Linked DNA regions of Homo sapiens: regions 1, 3 and 4 are each linked to region 2. The links come from fine-mapping of genetic effects on gene expression. A gene starts in region 2. Each other region holds a variant in brackets. All regions are shown on one strand. Distances are from middle to middle.

Evidence for each region. PIP is the estimated chance that this variant, and not a neighbour inherited with it, causes the effect. A credible set is the group of variants that fine-mapping cannot tell apart.
Region 1: its variant is the best candidate, but not a certain one, in a credible set for the expression of SCRIB in whole blood (INTERVAL, PIP 0.83).
Region 3: its variant is the best candidate, but not a certain one, in a credible set for the expression of SCRIB in whole blood (INTERVAL, PIP 0.80).
Region 4: its variant is the best candidate, but not a certain one, in a credible set for the expression of SCRIB in breast (GTEx, PIP 0.76).

The regions. Positions count from the first base shown.
Region 1 is chr8:143,790,041-143,795,211 of GRCh38, reverse strand. It overlaps IQANK1 (IQ motif and ankyrin repeat containing 1), which reads right to left. Exons shown (of 14, transcript NM_001381874.1): 12 at 5,148-5,171; 13 at 4,941-5,075; 14 at 4,567-4,862. The coding sequence ends at 4,604. It overlaps SCRIB (scribble planar cell polarity protein), which reads left to right. Exons shown (of 37, transcript NM_182706.5): 27 at 100-174; 28 at 1,250-1,312; 29 at 2,129-2,236; 30 at 2,345-2,504; 31 at 2,577-2,727; 32 at 2,807-2,992; 33 at 3,079-3,221; 34 at 3,299-3,336; 35 at 3,472-3,546; 36 at 3,772-3,823; 37 at 3,904-4,287. The coding sequence ends at 4,049. Among named protein-coding and RNA genes, the nearest start is that of MIR937, 20 kb to the left of the region's middle. The variant C/T (reference allele first, on the strand shown) is at 2,214.
Region 2 is chr8:143,813,141-143,818,140 of GRCh38, reverse strand. SCRIB (scribble planar cell polarity protein) reads left to right here and starts at 2,368. Exons shown (of 37, transcript NM_182706.5): 1 at 2,368-2,927; 2 at 4,023-4,140; 3 at 4,245-4,323; 4 at 4,415-4,504; 5 at 4,615-4,671; 6 at 4,767-4,830. The coding sequence starts at 2,769. It overlaps PUF60 (poly(U) binding splicing factor 60), which reads left to right. Exons shown (of 12, transcript NM_078480.3): 8 at 66-279; 9 at 359-549; 10 at 675-810; 11 at 996-1,231; 12 at 1,322-1,797. The coding sequence ends at 1,621. RefSeq lists enhancers at 1,776-2,408, 2,409-3,041, 3,326-3,990.
Region 3 is chr8:143,705,505-143,710,687 of GRCh38, reverse strand. CCDC166 (coiled-coil domain containing 166) reads left to right here and starts at 2,579. Exons shown (of 2, transcript NM_001162914.1): 1 at 2,579-3,022; 2 at 3,119-3,994. The coding sequence starts at 2,579. The coding sequence ends at 3,994. LOC101928160 (a long non-coding RNA gene) reads right to left here and starts at 2,637. Exons shown (of 6, transcript NR_134306.1): 1 at 2,552-2,637; 2 at 1,380-1,435. The variant G/A (reference allele first, on the strand shown) is at 2,317.
Region 4 is chr8:143,725,312-143,730,494 of GRCh38, reverse strand. FAM83H (family with sequence similarity 83 member H) reads left to right here. Exons shown (of 5, transcript NM_198488.5): 2 at 1-359; 3 at 1,172-1,336; 4 at 1,404-1,528; 5 at 1,772-5,183. The coding sequence ends at 4,574. Among named protein-coding and RNA genes, the nearest start is that of MIR4664, 5.2 kb to the left of the region's middle. The variant C/T (reference allele first, on the strand shown) is at 2,527.

The sequences.
Region 1 (5,171 bases), 23 kb after region 2:
TGCTGGGTAGTAACCCCCAGGACCCCCTCTCCTGCCCTGTGCTGGCCGGGTGCTGCCACGGAGCTACCCCTGCTAGTGCTGTGTTCACTCTGCCCCCAGGGTCGGGGTCTGCAGCCCCTGAAGCTGGACTACCGCGCCCTGGCCGCCGTGCCCAGCGCTGGCAGCGTGCAGAGGGTGAGTGCCCAGTGTGCAGTGCCCCCCACCTCCGTCCTGTTGTCCTGTTCATCGGCCACCCCAGGACAAACGCCAGGGCCATCCGGGAGGGAACCTTTGGGCGGGGGCTGGGGTGGGAGGAGGCCACGTCTGACCTGCAGGCTACCCCAGCCTGGCACATGCTTATCACCCTCATTCTCAACCCAAGCCATGTTGGTGCTGCCCCACCCACACACCCTGAGCTGCGGATGGGTGACACAGGCCGAGGCATCCCTCTAGTGGCGGTGCGAGAGCTTCACCTGCTGCTGCTGGGGCTGCCCAGCCCCAGAGGGTGCGAGTGGGGGCAGAGGCTCCTGGGGGATTGGGCAGGCACATGTCCCCAAGGGGAGGACAGGCTGGAGCAGCTGGAGGGGCGGGTGCTGGGGACAGGCAGGAGGATGTGCAGGCCCATCCCTCCCCTTAGAGATACAAATAACCCTCCCAGAGGGTGCGCCCCACCAGCCCCACCGAACGTGAGTGCCGAGGGGTGGCTCCTGCAGGCCCTTGCCCAAGCGGTGGGGTGGTGGTGAGGGGCCAGGCAGGGCCTGGATCTGAGGCAGCGCATTCGGGGGCTCTTGGGTACTGACCCTGCCTCCTCTGGCCATGGGCAGCGCCAAGAGGGAGGCTTCCGGGAGGCCCTTCATCCTCATGAACAACAGCACAGTCATGGGGGCAGCAGTCAGGGCGCCACTGAGCCCTGAGGGCTGCACACCACAAGTAGGGGCTCCCCACCATCACCTCTGTCTCTGGCCCCTCCCCCGAGCCCTCCCTGCTCTCTTCTCCGGCTGTCCTGTCTGCTCCCATCTCTCCTGCAAAGCTCCAGCCAGCACACTGCCATGGAGACAGCAGCTGCCCAGCCCAGGCCCCCGCATCCTGTGGGAACGGGGACGAGCCCCTCCGTGCTGACCGAGTGTCTGGGGCATCCCCTGGGCTATAGTCAGGTTGGGGAACTGAAGAGCTGCTGTGGCTTTTAGGCAAGCCCCAGGGCCCCCAGTCCCTCCTGGTCGGGGGCCACAGCCCTGCCCATCCTCACCCCACCCACTGCCTACTCCTCCAGGTACCGTCTGGAGCAGCTGGAGGGAAGATGGCTGAATCTCCCTGCTCCCCTAGTGGCCAGCAGGTGAGTGTCCCAAGTTAACGGGTGTGCCCCATGGTGGGTGGAGGGCAGGGCAGATGGCCGCTGTGCACAGGGCCCCTCCTCCAGGGATGGGGGGTCAGGGGCCATCGTGGGGTGCTGTTGACTCCGGTTTTCCCTCTGCTACCATGGGGCCTCCTGTGTGAGGAAGGCCAGGGACGCTTTCCTGGCCAGAGCTGCCTGGCGATGGGGTGGGGGGCCTGAGTGTGCTGTTCCTGGAGGGGCTCAAGCTCCTGAGACCCCAGTCAGTGTCTCAGGCCCAACACCTCCCAGGGCCCACCTTATCCCTGCCTGCCTTTTGTCTGGGGGTCCTTGCCCCCCCACTGTTGGCACCTCCCAACACACTGCCACGTGGGGGTGGAGGTGGCAGCCCCCATGAGACCCAGCCCCAGCTCAGCCCCTCACAGGCAAGATGTCAGCCCCACCCAGGTTGGTCGGTCTCTCTCTCTCTGTCTCTCCCACCCCCCTCTCTACCCCCGTCCCTTGCCTTAAACCCCTGATCCTGCTCTCCTCTGCCCCCGCCGCCCCCACCTGCCTTTTTTAGACAAAACCAGGGGTGATCCAGCCATTGGCTCAGGCCTGGCCAAGGGGCTCCCCAGCCCCCAGGGGCAGAGGTTGTCCCCACTCCGTGAGTGCTCTGTCCCGTGGGTGGGGGTGGCAGAGCCTCCTTCCCCAGCAGGATGGTGGGTGGGGATCAAAGGCAGGCGGGGGGACAGGCGGGGGGACAGCCGGTGGTGAGTTGCACACAGCTGCAGCCCCGACAGCTGCCCCAGCATAGCTCACAAGAGCCCCACCCCCCAGCCGCCCTCCCCGCCTTCTCCGGATGAGCTGCCCGCCAATGTGAAGCAGGCCTACAGGGCCTTCGCGGCCGTGCCCACTTCTCACC[C/T]GCCTGAGGATGCCCCTGCCCAGGTGTGTGGGGGCAGCACGCCTCCCTGCTGCGCGTGGTTGGGGTGGGTGCCCGGGGGCCCCAGTATCTCGGAGGAATGCCAGCCAAACCTCAAGGTCCGCTCCCCCCAGCCCCCCACGCCTGGGCCTGCAGCCTCCCCGGAGCAGCTGTCCTTCCGGGAGCGGCAGAAGTACTTTGAGCTGGAGGTGCGCGTGCCCCAGGCCGAGGGCCCCCCTAAGCGCGTGTCCCTGGTGGGTGCTGACGACCTGCGGAAGATGCAGGAGGAGGAAGGTGAGGGGCACGGAAGTGGGGTGGGGGTTGGGTCTCGGCTGGTCTGGCCTGACCCACCCTGCCCTCCGGCAGCCAGAAAACTACAGCAGAAGAGAGCGCAGATGCTGCGGGAGGCGGCAGAGGCTGGGGCCGAAGCGAGGCTCGCCCTGGACGGGGAGACGCTGGGCGAGGAGGAACAGGAGGATGAGCAGCCACCCTGGGCCAGCCCGAGCCCCACCTCAAGGTGAGCACCCGCCCACCAGACGCCCCCTACTCACCCCACGTGCCCCTGCCCCCCACAGCACGTCCTGTCCCTTCCCCAGGCAGAGCCCGGCGTCCCCCCCACCCCTGGGAGGTGGCGCCCCGGTGCGGACGGCCAAAGCTGAACGGCGCCACCAGGAGCGGCTGCGCGTGCAGAGTCCGGAGCCACCGGCACCCGAGCGTGCCCTGTCCCCTGCCGAGCTCCGGGCCCTGGAGGCCGAGAAGCGTGCGCTGTGGAGGGCAGCCAGGTGAGCCCCTGTGTGGGGTCGCCACCCCGCCCTGCTGCCTGTCCCTGCTCCTGCCCCAAGTCACCCCTGCCCGCTGTTCTCTGCAGGATGAAGTCATTGGAACAGGACGCTCTCCGAGCACAGATGGTCCTCAGCAGGTCCCAGGAAGGCCGGGGCACGCGGGGGCCCCTGGAGCGACTGGCCGAGGCCCCTTCCCCTGCGCCCACCCCGTCGCCCACCCCTGTGGAAGGTCTGTGGGTCAGGGCAGGTCGGGGGGGTCAGCCTGCCGCATGGGCTGCTTCCAATGCCCGCTTCTTGTCCCCCCAGACCTCGGCCCCCAGACCAGCACCTCCCCGGGACGCCTGGTGAGGAGCCGGTGGCTATGCCTTCCCTTCACCCCCGAGGCATGGGGGTGGGGTCTGGCCTGCCCCCACCCCCGTGGCCCTCATCCCCCCCTTTCCTCTCACTCTCTGCCTCTCCCCTCACGCTGTCCTTTCAAGCCCTTGTCTGGAAAGAAGTTTGACTACAGGGCCTTTGCGGCCCTGCCTTCTTCCAGACCTGTCTATGACATCCAGGTACCTGGCCTCCAGGCCTCTGCATGCCTGCCACCCTGTCCGTGCCTGCCACCGCCCCCATCCGCTCCCGCAGGGCCTCCCCACGCTCTGCCGTGGCCCTGCCTCTTCACCCCCCCTCCCCCTTCAGCCGGGCTCTGTGGGCCTCAGGGCTGGGAGCCCACCCGTCCACCTGGGTGGTTTGGGGCAGGGCTGGCACCGGCCTGACCAACACTCTCCCCATCACAGTCACCGGACTTTGCTGAGGAGTTGAGGTCCCTGGAACCATCTCCCAGCCCTGGTGAGTTGGGGCCGGGCTGGGGTGAGCTCCCAGGAGCCCAGCTGCCCTCAGCTCACTGCCCACCTGTCCCTGCCCTCCAGGCCCGCAGGAGGAGGATGGAGAAGTGGCTCTGGTGCTTCTGGGCAGGCCCTCACCCGGCGCTGTGGGCCCTGAAGATGTGGCACTGTGCAGCAGCCGCCGCCCCGTAAGGCCTGGGCGCCGTGGCCTGGGCCCTGTGCCCTCCTAGAGGAGCAGGCACCTCCCCCAGACTTGGGGTGGGGGCCCTGCCAGCTCCAGCACCACCCTTGCCCCAAGTCTTTTAACCTGGGTGTTAGCATTTTAAAGAGACCCCACAGGAGTTCTGGCCTGTGACTAACTAACTGCCCCACCCCAGCCGAGACCTCGGCGAGACTGTAACTAGTGATGTTTGTACAACCAAAGACTCTATTTTGTGGTTTAAGGAGAATAAAGTTGACTACATTTTACCTCCCGTCTGCCTGTCCATCCCCCACCCACTAGCACAGACCCTTCCTGCCCTCCGAGGCGAGGCTGAGCTCCGAGGGCTGCACCCTCACCGTCCCTCCCACGTCTCCCGCTGCGCCTCACTGCGCACGGGTCGGCCGGGCAGGCTGCCCATCCCCAGCAGGGCCTCCCCCAAGTGCCTGCAGACCCATGTCCGCCGGCCGGGGCCCGGGACTGCCGGAGTCCTGGACTGGCACACGCCACCGCTGCCCCCACGCACGCAGCACAGATGCAGCACCGCGCCCCGGGGCACACGTTTTATTGGGACTGGGGCCAGCACTAGAGGCCTGTGCCTGGCAGCTGCACGCGCACTGGGAGCAGCACCTGCAGCTGCTCAGCTGGCGGCCACTGGACCTTGGTGACGAAAAAGAGGCGGAAGTGCTCCAGCCGCTGCTCCTGGAACTGCGTGGGGCTATACTCAGGCCCGTCCGTGGGCCGCAGCAGCGACAGGTACCTCTCCTGCACCGCCTCCAGCTGCCGCTGCACGACTGGGAACAGGTCTTCCTCTCGCAGGTCGAACACCAGCGGCTTCCCATACCTGCCCCATGAGGCTGGTGAGGCCAGGGTGGGGCTAGGGAGGTGGGGTGGGGTGTACCTGTCACCCTGCCTGCCTCACCGCAGAGCCCCCAGCAGAGCCAGCCACATCGTCTCCGGCCTCAGGGGCTCCGGGTTCACCGTGTCCACATAGTTGGTATCCTGGTAGCGCAGGAAGGTGGCCGCCTGGCCCAAAGGGTCAATAACAAGAGGCCACCTGGGGACACCCATCAGGTCACTGCTGTCTGTCCAAACCCCAAATCGCCCACGTCTGGCCCGGAGAACTGACCGGCCATCGGCACGGATGCGGTTG
Region 2 (5,000 bases):
CACGGAAGCCTTTTGTGGCCGGGCCTGGGTTGACCGGTCTTTCCATCTCACCGCCTCTTCCCCAGGTGGGCAGACCCAGCAACATAGGGCAGGCCCAGCCCATCATAGACCAGTTGGCTGAGGAGGCACGGGCCTTCAACCGCATCTACGTGGCCTCTGTGCACCAGGACCTCTCAGACGATGACATCAAGAGCGTGTTTGAGGCCTTTGGCAAGATCAAGTCCTGCACACTGGCCCGGGACCCCACAACTGGCAAGCACAAGGGCTACGGCTTCATTGGTGAGCTGGGGTGGCTGAGGCGGGATGGGGGCCACCTGAGGCTGGGGCTGGCCCTGCTCACTGCTGCTCCTGCCCACAGAGTACGAGAAGGCCCAGTCGTCCCAAGATGCTGTGTCTTCCATGAACCTCTTTGACCTGGGTGGCCAGTACTTGCGGGTGGGCAAGGCTGTCACACCGCCCATGCCCCTACTCACACCAGCCACGCCTGGAGGCCTCCCACCTGCCGCTGCTGTGGCAGCTGCTGCAGCCACTGCCAAGATCACAGCTCAGGTGAGGGCCCACACAGCTGTCGGCTTGAGGGTGGGCGGGCTGGCCCCTGATTCCTTGGAGACTGATTCAAGGTGGTCTTGAGTAGCCAGACCAGGGACTGAGCACGGTGACCTTTTGGGTTGCAGGAAGCAGTGGCCGGAGCAGCGGTGCTGGGTACCCTGGGCACACCTGGACTGGTGTCCCCAGCACTGACCCTGGCCCAGCCCCTGGGCACTTTGCCCCAGGCTGTCATGGCTGCCCAGGCACCTGGAGTCATCACAGGTGAGTCTTAAGTGGTACCAGATCCTCTCCTCTCCTGTCCTGGCATCTCTCGGCTCGCTGCCCTCAGCTGCCTGGCCCTGGTGGTCTGGGCACAACCCTCTGAGCCCAGGGCAGGCCAGCTCTGTGCCTTTCTGGGAAGGGGGGTGGTAGGGAGTGACTGATGGACCTGGTTGGTTTTCCTGCAGGTGTGACCCCAGCCCGTCCTCCTATCCCGGTCACCATCCCCTCGGTGGGAGTGGTGAACCCCATCCTGGCCAGCCCTCCAACGCTGGGTCTCCTGGAGCCCAAGAAGGAGAAGGAAGAAGAGGAGCTGTTTCCCGAGTCAGAGCGGCCAGAGATGCTGAGCGAGCAGGAGCACATGAGCATCTCGGGCAGTAGCGCCCGACACATGGTGATGCAGAAGCTGCTCCGCAAGCAGGAGGTAGGCAGAGGGGCAGGGTGGTGGCGGGGGAGAGGGTAGGGGGGCGGGGCCGCAGTGCTCAGCTGTCTTCCCCTCGGCCCTGCCCCACAGTCTACAGTGATGGTTCTGCGCAACATGGTGGACCCCAAGGACATCGATGATGACCTGGAAGGGGAGGTGACAGAGGAGTGTGGCAAGTTCGGGGCCGTGAACCGCGTCATCATCTACCAAGAGAAACAAGGCGAGGAGGAGGATGCAGAAATCATTGTCAAGATCTTTGTGGAGTTTTCCATAGCCTCTGAGACTCATAAGGCCATCCAGGCCCTCAATGGCCGCTGGTTTGCTGGCCGCAAGGTGGTGGCTGAAGTGTACGACCAGGAGCGTTTTGATAACAGTGACCTCTCTGCGTGACAGTGGTCCCTCTCCCCGGACTTGCACTTGTTCCTTGTTTCCTCTGGGTTTTATAGTGATACAGTGGTGTCCCCGGGGCCAGGCGCGCTCTGCCCAGCCCAGCCTACAGTGCGGATAAAGGTGCGGATGCTGCTGGCCCTGAACGTCCGTGTGTCTGCCGTCGGTCCTGTCACCGATCCTGGGCGTGTGTCCTTAGGGGGTCTAGGGCGAGGAGGCAGGGTTGGGGGGGTCTCTGGACCTGCTTCCTGTTGGCAGGAGGGGCCTGCCGTGGGCGAGACCTGGGCAGGGGGTTGGCGCCCCGGGCCCCGTCCCGCGGGTGGCGGCGGCTGGGTGGGCGGGGCTGCCTGGGGCGCCAGGCTCTCGCGCGCGGGCTCGCAGCCGTCCCCGCAGGGTGGTGCTGAGAGAAGGCTGGGCACCGGGACACCGCGACCCGCTGGACAGCGCGCGCTGCCAGTGCTTTTGTGCCGCAGAGCCGGCCGTCCAAGGCGGGCGGGCGGGCATGGTCGCTTCCCGGGAGGAGGCTGTGCGTTAAGATTCGTGGCCAAATGCCGCGGGGCCAGGGGCCGGGCTGAAGACCGGAGGGCGGAGGGCGCCGCCTCTCGTGGATTGTAGCTCCCAATATCCCGCGCGCGGGGCGGGCCCGGCTTCCCGGCACGCTTTGCGCGGTGCCGCTACGGGTCCTCAGAGGCGGCGGCGCGCGGGGCCTTCTGGGGGCCGCAGTCCGGGCGTGCTAGGCGGCGAGGGCCGGACTCGGCTTCCCGACGGGCTGCGCGGCGGCCGGGTGGGTGTCGGCGGGGCAGTCCGGCGGGCAGCGGCGGTTCCGGTGCGGCACAGCGGGCGGACGAGCGGGCGGGACGAGCTGAGCAGGACCAAGCGGGATGCGGAGCCGCCGCCGCCGCCGCTCCCCGCGCTTCCTAAGAGTCTGAGACCCGCCGGGCCGCGCCCCCTGCCCAGGCCCGCAGTCCGAGCGTTCCGAGCGCGGGCCGGGCCCAGCGCCGGCCGCGGCCGCGTCCCCGTCCAGTCTCGGGCGGCCCGCCCCCTGCCTGCGCCCCCTCCCCATGCGCGGCGCCCATGCGGACTGAGCCCCGCCCCCCGGCCCCGAGCCCGCCGAGCGCCGCCGCCGGAGCCCGCGCCGCCCACCCGCACCATGCTCAAGTGCATCCCGCTGTGGCGCTGCAACCGGCACGTGGAGTCGGTGGACAAGCGGCACTGTTCGCTGCAGGCCGTGCCGGAGGAGATCTACCGCTACAGCCGCAGCCTGGAGGAGCTGCTGCTCGACGCCAACCAGCTGCGCGAGCTGCCCAAGGTGAGCGGCCGCCCGCACCTGCCGCCCAAAGGCGCGCCCCCAGCCCGTGATTCCTCCGGCGGCAGAATCTGCCCGGGCGAGTCACCGCAGCCTCCAGCCGGCCCTGCTGGTTTGCACTGGCCAGGTCCCCACCCCAGCCAGCCCCACCCTTCTCTTCCAGCCGCCCTGGCTGGCGCAGGTGGCAGCGGTCATCAGGTGCTTGCCTGGGGATAGCGATTGTCACCGAGCCTGGAGGCGGAGCCTCAGAGTGAAACCCGTGGGGATTCAGGGAGGTGGATGGGGTTAGGGTGGAACTTGGATTCAGGTGGCTGATGAGTACTAGCTTCTTGGGCCGCTCTGGAGGTGGGTCCAGACCTCCTCTCCTTTTTTGCTGGGTGCAGGGGTGAGTGGGGGAGCCCTCTTGATGTACTCTTTGCTCTCGGATCTGTTCGCTGTCCCCCTTTCTTTACCCTTGCTTCTCGTGGTCAGGTGCTCTCCTAAGGCTGCTACAAGAAAGGAGGCTGGAGAAAGCAGATTAAAAAGTATTTCTTTTCTGGAGATGGGGTGCTGGGTGATCAGTACCTAGGGGTTGGGTGTCCCAAAGAATGTGACCCTGTTCTGGCCGTGGCAGTGACAGCTCGGTCCTCTGTGGCCACCTGCAGGCCTCGCGCGTAGCACTGTGCCTGTGGTACTGTGTTATTGTGGGGAGCGTTTACTGAGTTCTTGCTGCAGAACCAGGCCAGGCTTGTTGTCAGGATGCAGTAGCAGAGGCCAGTGTGGGCCCCTGGAGGGTGGCAGAAGTGGTTCAGGGGCTGGGTGGGCCCTGAGGTAAGACACAGGGTAGGGGATTGGGGCTTTGTCTGGTCGCCAGCAGGTGTCTTCTCAGAGTGGAGGCTGGTGTGAAGAGTAGAGGGAGGCAGCCACAGTGGGCGTGTGTACCGTGTGTTTCTTTCCTTTTTTTGCAAATGGGGTGTCGTGGTTAGACCCCAGGACCCGGTGTGACCTGGAGCAGACAGAGGCCTAGGGACTCTTGACTTGTGACACTCACGTGTCCAGGAGCTCTTCTCTGCTCTGCAGTGGTCTCTGCCACAGAGTCCGTGTCCTCCCTGCCCACAGCCTTTTTTCCGGCTGCTGAACTTGCGCAAGCTGGGCCTGAGCGACAACGAGATCCAGCGGTTGCCTCCCGAGGTGGCCAACTTCATGCAGCTGGTGGAGCTGGACGTGTCCCGGAACGGTGGGGAGCCTGGGCAGGGGCTGGGTGGGGTCTGGGGAGTGTCCGCTGGGGCTGCAGACGGCCTGCAGGCCATGGCATCTGTCCACTGTGACCCTCTGTGACAGATATCCCTGAGATCCCGGAGAGCATCAAGTTCTGCAAGGCTCTGGAGATCGCGGACTTCAGCGGGAACCCCCTCTCCAGGTGGGTGGCAGCCTGTGGTGGGGTCGGTAGGGGCTATGGGTCCCACAGCCCTGGACTGGTCATCCGAGGGCCTCTGCTTCCTCCCATCCAGGCTCCCTGATGGCTTCACTCAGCTGCGCAGCCTGGCTCACCTGGCCCTGAATGATGTGTCTCTGCAGGCACTGCCCGGGGACGTGGGCAAGTGAGTGCCTTCTCAGGTGGAACTAGGGTGGGGTGGGGGACCAGGATTGGCCCTGCCCCTGCTGCCACTGCTTTCCTTCCTCTTGCCCCAGCGCCTGGTCTCTCTTTCAGCCTCGCCAACCTGGTGACCCTGGAGCTCCGGGAGAACCTGCTCAAGTCCCTGCCAGCGTGAGTGTGACAGGCATTCTCCTAACAGCCAGGGCAGGGCCACAGCCCAGGGACCAGGGCTGCGTGGCCACACCTCCACCCTGCTTCCTCTGCAGGTCCCTGTCATTTCTGGTCAAGCTGGAACAGCTGGATCTGGGAGGCAACGATCTGGAAGTGCTGGTGCGTGGAGGCCTGACAGGGCAGAGACCGGAGGGCGGGCCACGGAAGCAAGGGCAAAGAAGGGGACAGCGAGCAGATCCGACAGCAAGGGGCACCTCGGGAGGGCAGGCGGGTGGGAGCTGGGTGTGGGGGCGTATAGTCTCTTGAGCACGGCGCAGCAGGAGGCTTTG
Region 3 (5,183 bases), 110 kb after region 2:
GGTCTGAGACTGTGGGGCACCCGACTGGCCCATGTGAGCAGGCCTCTGCCTATTGCTGCCTCAGTTTCTCAATCTGTCAAATGGGGACAGTGACCCCACACAAGGCCTGAGGGTAGCAGGGTGGAGAGCACTGGGGTGTGGCCATGGCAAGGAACCAGAAGAGGCAACGCTGGGCATTAAGCACCCCTACACATGAGCCTGCCCCCCACCCCAGATGAGTCCCTGCTGCAGTTGAGCCCCTGCTGCAGGGATGCAGGGATGCAGGGTCATGTTTTTCTCATGATTCTATGTGGTCTTTTCCCAATTTTCTGTGACAGGAGAGGCACCATTTTCATATTAAAAGCCCATATATTAAAGCCAACATTCAGATGCAGTTTAGTTTATAAGTCAATGTCCTCTTACAATGTTAATGCTTTGTTTGGTAGTTTGTGTCCTCTTATTTTTACTTATAAAATACTTTTTTTTTTTTGAGACAGAGTCTCGCTCTGTCGCCCAGGCTGGAGTGCAGTGGCGCAACCTCGGCTCACTGCAAGCTCCGCCTCTCGGGTTCACGCCGTTCTCCTGCCTCAGCCTCCCAAGTAGCTGGGACTACAGGCACCTGCCACCACGCCTGGCTAATTTTTTGTATTTTTAGTAGAGACAGGGTTTCATCATGTTGGCCAGGATGGTCTGGATCTCCTGACGTGATCTGCCTGCCTCAGCCTCCCAAAGTGCTGGGATTACAGGTGTGAGCCACTGCGCCCAGCCTAAAATACATTTTTTTACAAGGAGTAAAATGCCTCAATCGTGTTCTTAATTTTAAAAGGCTCTGCTGCACCTTTCAGGCAGGTTGGCTGATCAGAGCAAGCCCAGCCATGTCCATGAGCCACCAGACGACCTCCACCACAAACCTCTGTGCAAATGTGGTTTTCTAAACTGTGTCCCTCACAAAGATCCTCAAATCTGCCCACATCCCAGCAAATGTGGACAAACTGGGCAGAAACTCAACTCTATGATGACAGAACACAAAATAGGGGTCGATTTAAGTTGTGTGTCAAAGGCTGCTGGACACACTGTTCCTGAGGCATCTAACAGAACGGGAGCTGGGGACCGCTGGTCTAGACGGAGGCAAATCTTACAGGACCAACAGGTGGTGATGCCTGCTGTGCAGTAATGACCAATACATCAAGACAGCAGAGTTTGCAGCAGAGAAAGTGTCATGATCCCCGGACACCGAGCAAGGAGATGGGAGGGACCTTCAAATCCATCTCCCTGAGTTCTGGGCTGGGGTTTTTAAAGGGATTGTGGCGGGTGACGGACTGTAAAATGGGGTCATCAATTGGCCGGGGAAAGGGGATGAAGTCCTCAGGATGTGTACCCTGCGTTCTTTGGCACATTACCTCCTCGTGGGGTGCTTCAGACCAGCTGGGTCAGTCGCTTCATGGGTGTGCAGGACCTGTCAAATAGAAAACCTCACATTTTACTATGTTTAAGTTGTTACCTATAGAGCAGTTATGGGGACCTCTCATCTTGTGACAGGGTCTGTGTGATTCTGGGGCCACAGGCACCAAACAGCTCTGAGGAAGGAGTTGGGAGGCAGGCTGACCTCACAATGAATGCTGAGCGAGCTGCAAGCTGGGTTTGTTTTCCTTTCTCGCCTCCCTTCTTCCCTGATTAATAAAGTCTATAGGAATGGTTTCAATAATGATGTTGTGTCCACAAAGTCAACAGAAAAGGAGAAAAAGCCAGCCCTTTTTGGATCCCTATGTCCTCCAGCCATCCGGGCACACGGGGAAGGGAAGCTACCCAGCTGCAGAGCCGCGGATGAGCTGAGCGGGTGCCGCACGCGCGCGCTTAGGACCTTCAGAGAGAAACGCTCTCTAGGCGCCCAGTGGACTCCATACTTCAGGAACCCCAATTCCCACGGGGGCCTCACCGAAGGAATCACGAAATGCTCAGGGAAAGCAAGGGTCCCTGAAGAGGCGAATGCTCCAGGGAAGCGCTCCCTCCTGACAACACAGAGATTTCACTCGGGAAACGGGGGGGAACGTGGTGAAGCTCCTCTTCAAGTGGGGGACAACCCGGGAGAAGGCCCGTTGCTGAACCGAAGGCGAAGGGCGCTTCTGGGGTCTGTGAGATTCAGAAGCACGTCCGGAGTCCGTCTGAAGCCCAGTTTTGTCAGCTCAGGCCCTATCTCTGGGGGCACATTCACAAGCAGTCACGGGCGACTCAAGATGAGAGAGTTGTGCGGAATGAAGGAGTCGGCCATCGCCAGAGTAACGGGGTGGGGGTGGGAGAGGACGAGTAAGTTCTGTCTCCATAGAGACCGTGCCCGCC[G/A]AGCAGCAACATTACTAATGTTAGGCGCACCCAGACGGACAGCGAAGGTCCAGCGGGAGCCCACGAGTGAAGGTTGGCAAAGCTGCCCTGACCCGCGACCCAAAGCCCCGATCTGCCTCCCCAAAAGCCTCGTGACCCCGAGGCGCGTCCCACCTCTGGGCCTGGCGCCTAGAATATTTAGGCCAGGTAAGAGGAAGGGCTAAATTGGGGAAGGGGCCGGGGTCGCTGCCCTCACCAGTCCTGGTGGTCCAGGCACCAACCCATGGCGCCCAAGAAAAAGCGCGGGCCGAGCGCAGGGAGCCAGCCAGGTGGTGCGGCGGCCGCGGGTGCCGAGCAGCCGCTATCGGAGCGCGCGCAGTACCTGCAACGCGAACACGCGCTGCTCTCGGAGCAGCTGGACACCTGCGAGGAGAGCGTTGACCAGGTGCTGCGAGAGAACGCCTTCCTGGACCGCGAGGCGCTGCGCCTGCGCGAGGAGAACCGGCTCTACGCCAGCTACGTGAGCGCGCGCGCCCAGCGCTGCGCCAAAGCCATCGTCCGGCTGGACGAGCAGAACCGCGTGGACCTAGCGCAGATCCACTGGCAGCGGGCGGAACTGGCCTCGCTCTACCACGGGCGCGAGGACGGGGTGCGCGCGCAGCTGTTGGAGATGGAGGCGCGCGCGGCACAGATGGCACAGCAGGTGCAAGAGCTGCAGCCCTACAAGGCCAGTGAGCCCGCCCGCGGCCGGGGTGAGGCGGGGCGGGGCTGGTGGCCGGGCCGGGGGCGGGGTGGGGGTGAGCTGACGGCGCCCCCGCCGCAGGTGCTGCAGCTGGAGCAGCTGGCCCGGATCCGGGCGCTGGAGCGCGAGCTGCTGCATATGCGCGTGGAGCACACGCAGCTGCTCCACCGCGTGAAGCGGCGCTTCCTGGAGGACAAGGCGGCCTTCGAGCGCGAGGCGCGTCAGCGCGTGCAGTCACTGGCGCGGCGCGCGGAGCGGGAGGCGGTGCGCGCGCTTGTGGCGCACACGCAGGCCATCAAAGCGGACAACGGACGCCTGCGGCAGGAGCTGCTGCTGCTGCTCCGCCGGACCCAGCTGCTGCACCACACGCGGCGCCAGCTGCTGGAACAGCGCGAGCAACTGCACCGCGAGCACGAGGACACGCGGGACCTGGCGCGTGTGCACGGCTGGCTGCGCAGGGGCCCCGGAGGCCCGCCGCTCTGGGAGCGGCCGGCCTTCTCCCAGCCCACCTCGCGCCCCGGGTCATTAGCCGCCCCCATAAGCCCGTCGCGCGCGGCCTCCCAGACCCCGTCTGTGGTACCGTCGCGCGCGGCCCCCCGGGCCTCGTCCGTGGTCCCGTCGCGCGAGGCTTCCCGGGTCCCCTCGTTGGTGCTATCGAGCATGGACTCCAGGGTCCCATCGCTGGCCACTTCAAAGGTGGGATCCCGGATGCCATCCCTGACCGCTTCGCGCGCAGGCTCCCGGGCCCTGTCGCTGGTGCAGTCACTCGAGGGCTCTGGGATCTCTTCGGGGTCCTCACCGAGGGTGTCCTCACAGGACACTCTCCGCTCCACGAAGTCTGGCCCCAAGCTTCTCTCTGGCCTGTCCCGGGATCGGGATCCGGCTCTTCTCCCCCCACAGTCGGAGGACAGCGTGAACGCTGAAGCTGCGGCAGAAGCCTCCCCGGGTAGAGCCTGAACCTGCAGAGAGTGAGGCCCAGGAGGCCCTAGTGTGGGCGAGTCAGGCGCGCAGGGCGCTTACGGGGATAATGCAATGGTTAATAAAGGCGTGGCCCCCAGGCGGCTCTGACACCCGCGTGCATGCTCTAGCATTTCCGGCCGGCCACTCATTCGTGCGTCCAATTTCCAAGCTGCAAGAGAGCTCAGCGCCTGCTTTCCCTGAATGCCCTTTGGGACCCCGCATCCCTGCCCTCAGTGGGGCCCTACCGCGAGCCGGCAGGCTCAGAGCAAGCCCGGGCACTGGCGGGCGCGGACGTGCGACGAAGCGGCAGCTGGCAGCTGGGCCGCTACGGTGAGGCCCGGGGGAAAAGCGTAGACTTTGTTCTCCGCGCCAAGGGGATGTCTTATGTTCAACCTACTGGGAGTTTTTCAGTAATTTTAAAACTTTGATATACTTTCCAACTTAGAGAAAGTTGCAAAAATAGCACAGGGACCGCCATGGACCCTTTATCCGGATGCCCGGCCGCTGACGCTGCCCGTGAATTTGGTCCGTGTGTATCGCTGTGCACGAGCGTTGCTTCGGAACCGTTTGAGATGCGGTTGGAGACGCTGGCCCCGGAGCCCCGAAGTACTTTCGTGTGTATTTCCTGAACAGAGGGATGTTCTCCTACGATGCTTTAGTGCAGTGATCAGAACCAGGACATTTACTGTGGAGGAATATTATCCCCATCGTCGCTCACATCACAACTTTGTCACCCGTCCCAAGTGTTTCTGTGGCTGTCCCCATCTTCCAGGGTCACGTGTTGCATTTAGTTGTCGCGTCTGGATGTGTACAGGCGGTTATTAAAATGCCCCTCCGTGGAGGGTCAGCTCTCCGGGCTGCGCGGGACGCCCGCCCAGCTCGCGCTCAACCTTCCTCGTGGCCGCGACGCGACCAGCGAGTGCCCAGGGCTAGAGCGGCGCCGCGCTTCCGGTTCGGGAGGCGTGGATTCCGGGGGTGCGTGGAGGCGGCTGCGGCTCTGCGGGTTGGTGGTGGCCTCCTTTGCCCCTTGTCCCGCGGGCCGGCTCCTCCCTCTGAGCAGGTCTGTGGCGCTCAGCCCGGGCTTCCCTCTCCCCGGGGCCCTGAGTTCCCTTGTTGGGGTCTCAAGTGGGTGCCCCCAGTCCCCCCCAGCACCTCCCGGGGCCTGGCCCTGGTGCTCCTCCCAGGA
Region 4 (5,183 bases), 88 kb after region 2:
TGGCGGTGGATGCACTGGCCGAGGGTGGCTCGGAGGCCTACAGCCGCTTCCTCGCTACCGAGGGGGCACCAGACTTCCTGTGCCCTGAAGAGCTGGAACATGTGAGCCGACACCTTCGGCCTCCGCAGTATGTTACCCGAGAGCCACCTGAAGGCAGCCTTCTCGACGTGGACATGGATGGCTCCTCGGGTACATACTGGCCAGTGAACTCAGACCAGGCCGTGCCTGAGCTTGATTTGGGCTGGCCTCTGACCTTCGGCTTCCAGGGCACCGAGGTGACCACCTTGGTGCAGCCACCGCCCCCCGACAGCCCCAGTATCAAGGATGAGGCCCGCAGGATGATCCGTTCCGCCCAGCAGGTGCGCCATCTTGGGCTTGAGGGTAGTGGGGGAGGGGCCTGGGCTAGAGGCACGGGGGTGGAGGAGATGCATGAGCATGATCAGCTTGAGGGGTGAGCCTGAGCTCCAGCTGGAGTGGGGGTCCCTGGCAAAGATCTTCAGGGCTGCCAGGTCTCGGTCATCAGGGGCTGCAGGCTCTGCACAGGTCTGCTTGCCTGTGGTCATGGCCAGTGCCCAGAAACTCGGGGGCTCTGGGGATGGGTGGGCACCCCACCAGCCTGGGTTCATTGTTCAGATAATTACCTCTCATCCTGCCCGGTGGCCCTTGGCCAGCTGAGGGCTTCTAACCATCACCAAACAGCTAGCAGACGGCGGAAGGTGCTGTTAAACCATAGCGACTGAGGCATGAGGTCCAGACGCTAAAGGCTTGTGACTTTCTCCCCTGCCCAGGGCAACAACCCCGTCCCAGGGCAGAACTGGAGCCTGGCACTTGGCCCTGACAGCTGCCCTGGAATGGGGGCAGCTCAGCCGTCTGTAGGGTGGAGGGGATTGAGGGGCCCTTGCCGTGCCCCAACCTGGCCCACCCTCATCCAGGGTTCTCTGCCCTGCACCTGCCTCGGTTTCCCCCTTATGGCCAGCCGTTCCACACCTCTTCTGTTTGGTCCCTTCTTCCTGCCCATCTTCCCAGATGTGGCGCCAACTCCCTAGGATGGACTAGCTTGTTTCACAGTGGTCGTGGGTGATCCAGACACCTCCCGGGTGTGGAGGGGAGGCTGGACAATGGTGTGGGGACAGCAGGGGCCTCTCCTCTCCGTCCTGACCCGCCCCTGCAGGTGGTGGCCGTGGTGATGGACATGTTCACTGATGTGGACCTGCTCAGCGAAGTGCTGGAGGCCGCGGCCCGTCGGGTCCCAGTCTACATCCTGCTGGATGAGATGAACGCGCAGCACTTCCTGGACATGGCCGACAAGTGCCGTGTCAACCTGCAGCACGTGGATGTGAGTTCCCGGGAGTGGGAGATTGGGGAGGACCCGTGGGAGAGATCTGACTCCCCTCCCTCCCCAGTTCCTGCGCGTACGGACTGTGGCGGGCCCCACCTACTACTGCCGCACTGGGAAGTCCTTCAAGGGCCACGTCAAGGAGAAGTTCCTGCTGGTGGACTGTGCCGTGGTGATGAGTGGGAGCTACAGGTGCGCCCGCGGGGCTCCCTCACCCCCTTCTCTGGGGCCTCCTCCTGTAACCCCAGCACCCCCTTTCCACACCAGGGCCCTCCTCGCCAGGAGCCCTTGTCCTGTAGACCCCTGCACAGCCTAGCCGGGCCCAGGTCCTTGCAGACCTCACATCCCTGCGTCCTCCGCGCCCCACCCGCTGCCCACGGGGCTGCAGTGCCCTCGCTCCAGCTCGGTTTGACTCTGGCCCTGACCCCCCCACAGCTTCATGTGGTCCTTTGAGAAGATCCACCGCAGCCTGGCGCACGTGTTCCAAGGAGAGCTGGTCTCCAGCTTCGACGAGGAGTTCCGCATCCTCTTCGCGCAGTCCGAGCCGCTTGTGCCCTCGGCCGCGGCCCTGGCCCGCATGGACGCCTATGCCCTGGCTCCGTATGCCGGGGCCGGGCCTCTCGTGGGCGTCCCTGGGGTCGGGGCGCCAACCCCCTTCTCCTTCCCTAAACGAGCGCACCTCCTGTTCCCGCCACCCCGGGAAGAGGGCCTGGGCTTCCCCTCCTTCCTCGACCCGGACCGCCACTTCCTGTCGGCCTTCCGCCGGGAGGAGCCGCCGCGGATGCCGGGGGGCGCGCTGGAACCGCACGCGGGGCTGCGGCCGCTCTCGCGGCGCCTGGAGGCCGAGGCCGGGCCGGCTGGGGAGCTCGCGGGCGCGCGGGGCTTCTTCCAGGCGCGGCACCTGGAGATGGACGCCTTCAAGCGGCACAGCTTCGCGACCGAGGGCGCGGGCGCCGTGGAGAACTTCGCGGCCGCGCGGCAGGTGTCGCGGCAGACGTTCCTCAGCCACGGCGACGACTTCCGCTTCCAGACCAGCCACTTCCACCGTGACCAGCTCTACCAGCAGCAGTACCAGTGGGACCCGCAGCTCACGCCGGCGCGCCCGCAAGGCCTGTTCGAGAAGCTTCGCGGGGGCCGCGCGGGTTTCGCGGACCCGGATGACTTCACCCTGGGCGCCGGGCCCCGCTTCC[C/T]GGAGCTCGGACCCGACGGGCACCAGCGGCTGGACTACGTGCCGTCCAGCGCGTCCCGCGAGGTGCGCCACGGCTCGGACCCCGCCTTCGCGCCCGGACCCCGCGGCCTGGAGCCCAGCGGAGCCCCGCGCCCCAACCTGACCCAGCGCTTCCCATGCCAGGCCGCGGCGAGGCCGGGCCCAGACCCCGCTCCCGAGGCGGAGCCGGAGCGCAGGGGCGGGCCCGAGGGGCGGGCAGGGCTGCGGCGCTGGCGTTTGGCCTCCTACTTGAGCGGCTGCCACGGCGAGGATGGGGGCGACGACGGCCTACCGGCGCCCATGGAAGCGGAGGCTTACGAAGACGACGTGCTGGCTCCCGGGGGCCGGGCACCTGCCGGCGACCTGCTCCCCTCGGCCTTCCGCGTCCCAGCAGCCTTCCCCACCAAGGTCCCGGTGCCAGGCCCGGGCAGCGGCGGCAACGGCCCAGAGCGCGAGGGCCCGGAGGAGCCTGGCCTGGCCAAGCAGGACTCATTCCGCTCGCGCCTGAACCCCCTGGTCCAGCGCAGCTCCAGGCTGCGCTCCTCGCTCATCTTCAGCACGTCACAGGCCGAGGGCGCGGCCGGGGCTGCGGCGGCCACTGAGAAGGTGCAGCTGCTGCACAAGGAGCAGACGGTCAGCGAGACGCTGGGGCCCGGCGGAGAGGCCGTGCGCTCCGCGGCTTCCACCAAGGTGGCGGAGCTGCTGGAGAAGTACAAGGGCCCAGCCCGTGATCCCGGCGGCGGCGCGGGCGCCATCACCGTTGCCAGCCACAGCAAGGCCGTCGTGTCCCAGGCGTGGCGGGAAGAGGTGGCGGCCCCAGGTGCCGTGGGGGGCGAGCGCCGCAGCCTCGAGAGCTGCCTGCTGGACCTGCGCGACTCCTTTGCACAGCAGCTGCACCAGGAGGCGGAGCGGCAGCCGGGAGCCGCGTCGCTCACCGCGGCGCAGCTGCTCGACACACTGGGCCGGAGCGGCTCCGACCGCCTGCCTTCCCGCTTCCTCTCTGCCCAGAGCCACTCAACGTCCCCGCAAGGGCTGGACAGCCCTCTGCCGCTGGAAGGGTCCGGAGCGCACCAGGTGCTCCATAATGAGTCAAAAGGGAGCCCCACCTCGGCTTACCCTGAGCGGAAGGGGAGCCCCACGCCTGGGTTTTCCACTCGAAGAGGAAGTCCAACTACAGGATTTATCGAGCAGAAGGGGAGCCCCACCTCAGCCTACCCCGAGCGCAGGGGTAGTCCGGTGCCCCCCGTGCCGGAGCGCAGGAGCAGTCCGGTGCCCCCCGTGCCGGAGCGCAGGGGCAGCCTCACCCTTACCATCTCCGGGGAGTCCCCGAAGGCCGGGCCCGCGGAGGAGGGGCCGAGCGGCCCCATGGAAGTCCTGCGCAAAGGCTCCTTGCGTCTTAGGCAGCTGCTGAGCCCCAAGGGCGAGCGGCGCATGGAGGATGAGGGTGGCTTCCCAGTGCCGCAGGAGAACGGCCAACCCGAGAGCCCGCGGCGTCTGTCACTGGGCCAGGGTGACAGCACGGAGGCTGCCACAGAAGAGCGGGGTCCGCGGGCGCGCCTGTCCTCAGCCACGGCCAACGCCTTGTACAGCAGCAACCTTCGGGATGACACGAAGGCCATTCTGGAGCAGATCAGTGCCCACGGCCAGAAGCACCGTGCGGTCCCTGCCCCGAGCCCCGGCCCGACCCACAACAGCCCCGAGCTAGGCCGTCCACCGGCTGCTGGCGTCCTGGCCCCAGATATGTCCGACAAGGACAAGTGTTCAGCCATCTTCCGCTCGGACAGCTTGGGGACCCAGGGCCGGCTGAGCCGCACGCTGCCAGCCAGCGCGGAGGAGCGCGATCGGCTGCTGCGCCGCATGGAGAGCATGCGCAAGGAGAAGCGCGTGTACAGCCGCTTCGAGGTCTTCTGCAAGAAAGAGGAGGCCAGCAGCCCTGGGGCAGGGGAAGGCCCCGCGGAGGAGGGCACCAGGGACAGCAAGGTGGGCAAGTTCGTGCCCAAGATCCTGGGCACGTTCAAAAGCAAGAAGTGAGTCTTCTGGCCTGGCAACCCAGGCCAGGGTGCCCGCATCGCTGCCCCGGTCATCCAGAAGCCCCGCGGAACAGAGAGCCCTGCTCATCTGCTTGAGCAGCGGCTGTCAGGCCACGGCCGCTTGGGGCTTGGCTGAGTGCGCCAGACCTCGGCTCCACTGGAGGCTCACCTGGCAGCTGCCGTCTCTGCCCCCTGGCCTCCCCAACGCTGGGGCTGCACCCCTCGCCACCAGTGCCTTTCTCCCCTCAGCACCTTCATCTCTGCACCGTCAGCCTTGCGTGGCGCAGCGTCTGGCTCCGCCATCTCTTTGTGCCTCAGTCCCCCCCGCCCCCTTTATTTTTTTGAGACCTAGGGCTGGAGTGCAGTTGAGCGGTCTGGGCTCACTGCAACCTCTGCCTCCCGGGTTCCAGCGATTCTCCTGCCTCAGCCTCCTGAGTAGCTGGGATTACAGATGTATGCTACCACGCCCAGGTAGTTTTTGTATTTTTAGTAGAGACAGGGTTTCACTATGTTGGCCAGGCTGGTCTCCAACTCCTGGCCTCAAATGATCAGCCCGCTTCAGCCTCCCAAAGTGGGGGGATTACAGGCGTGAGCCTTGCACCCCGCTAAG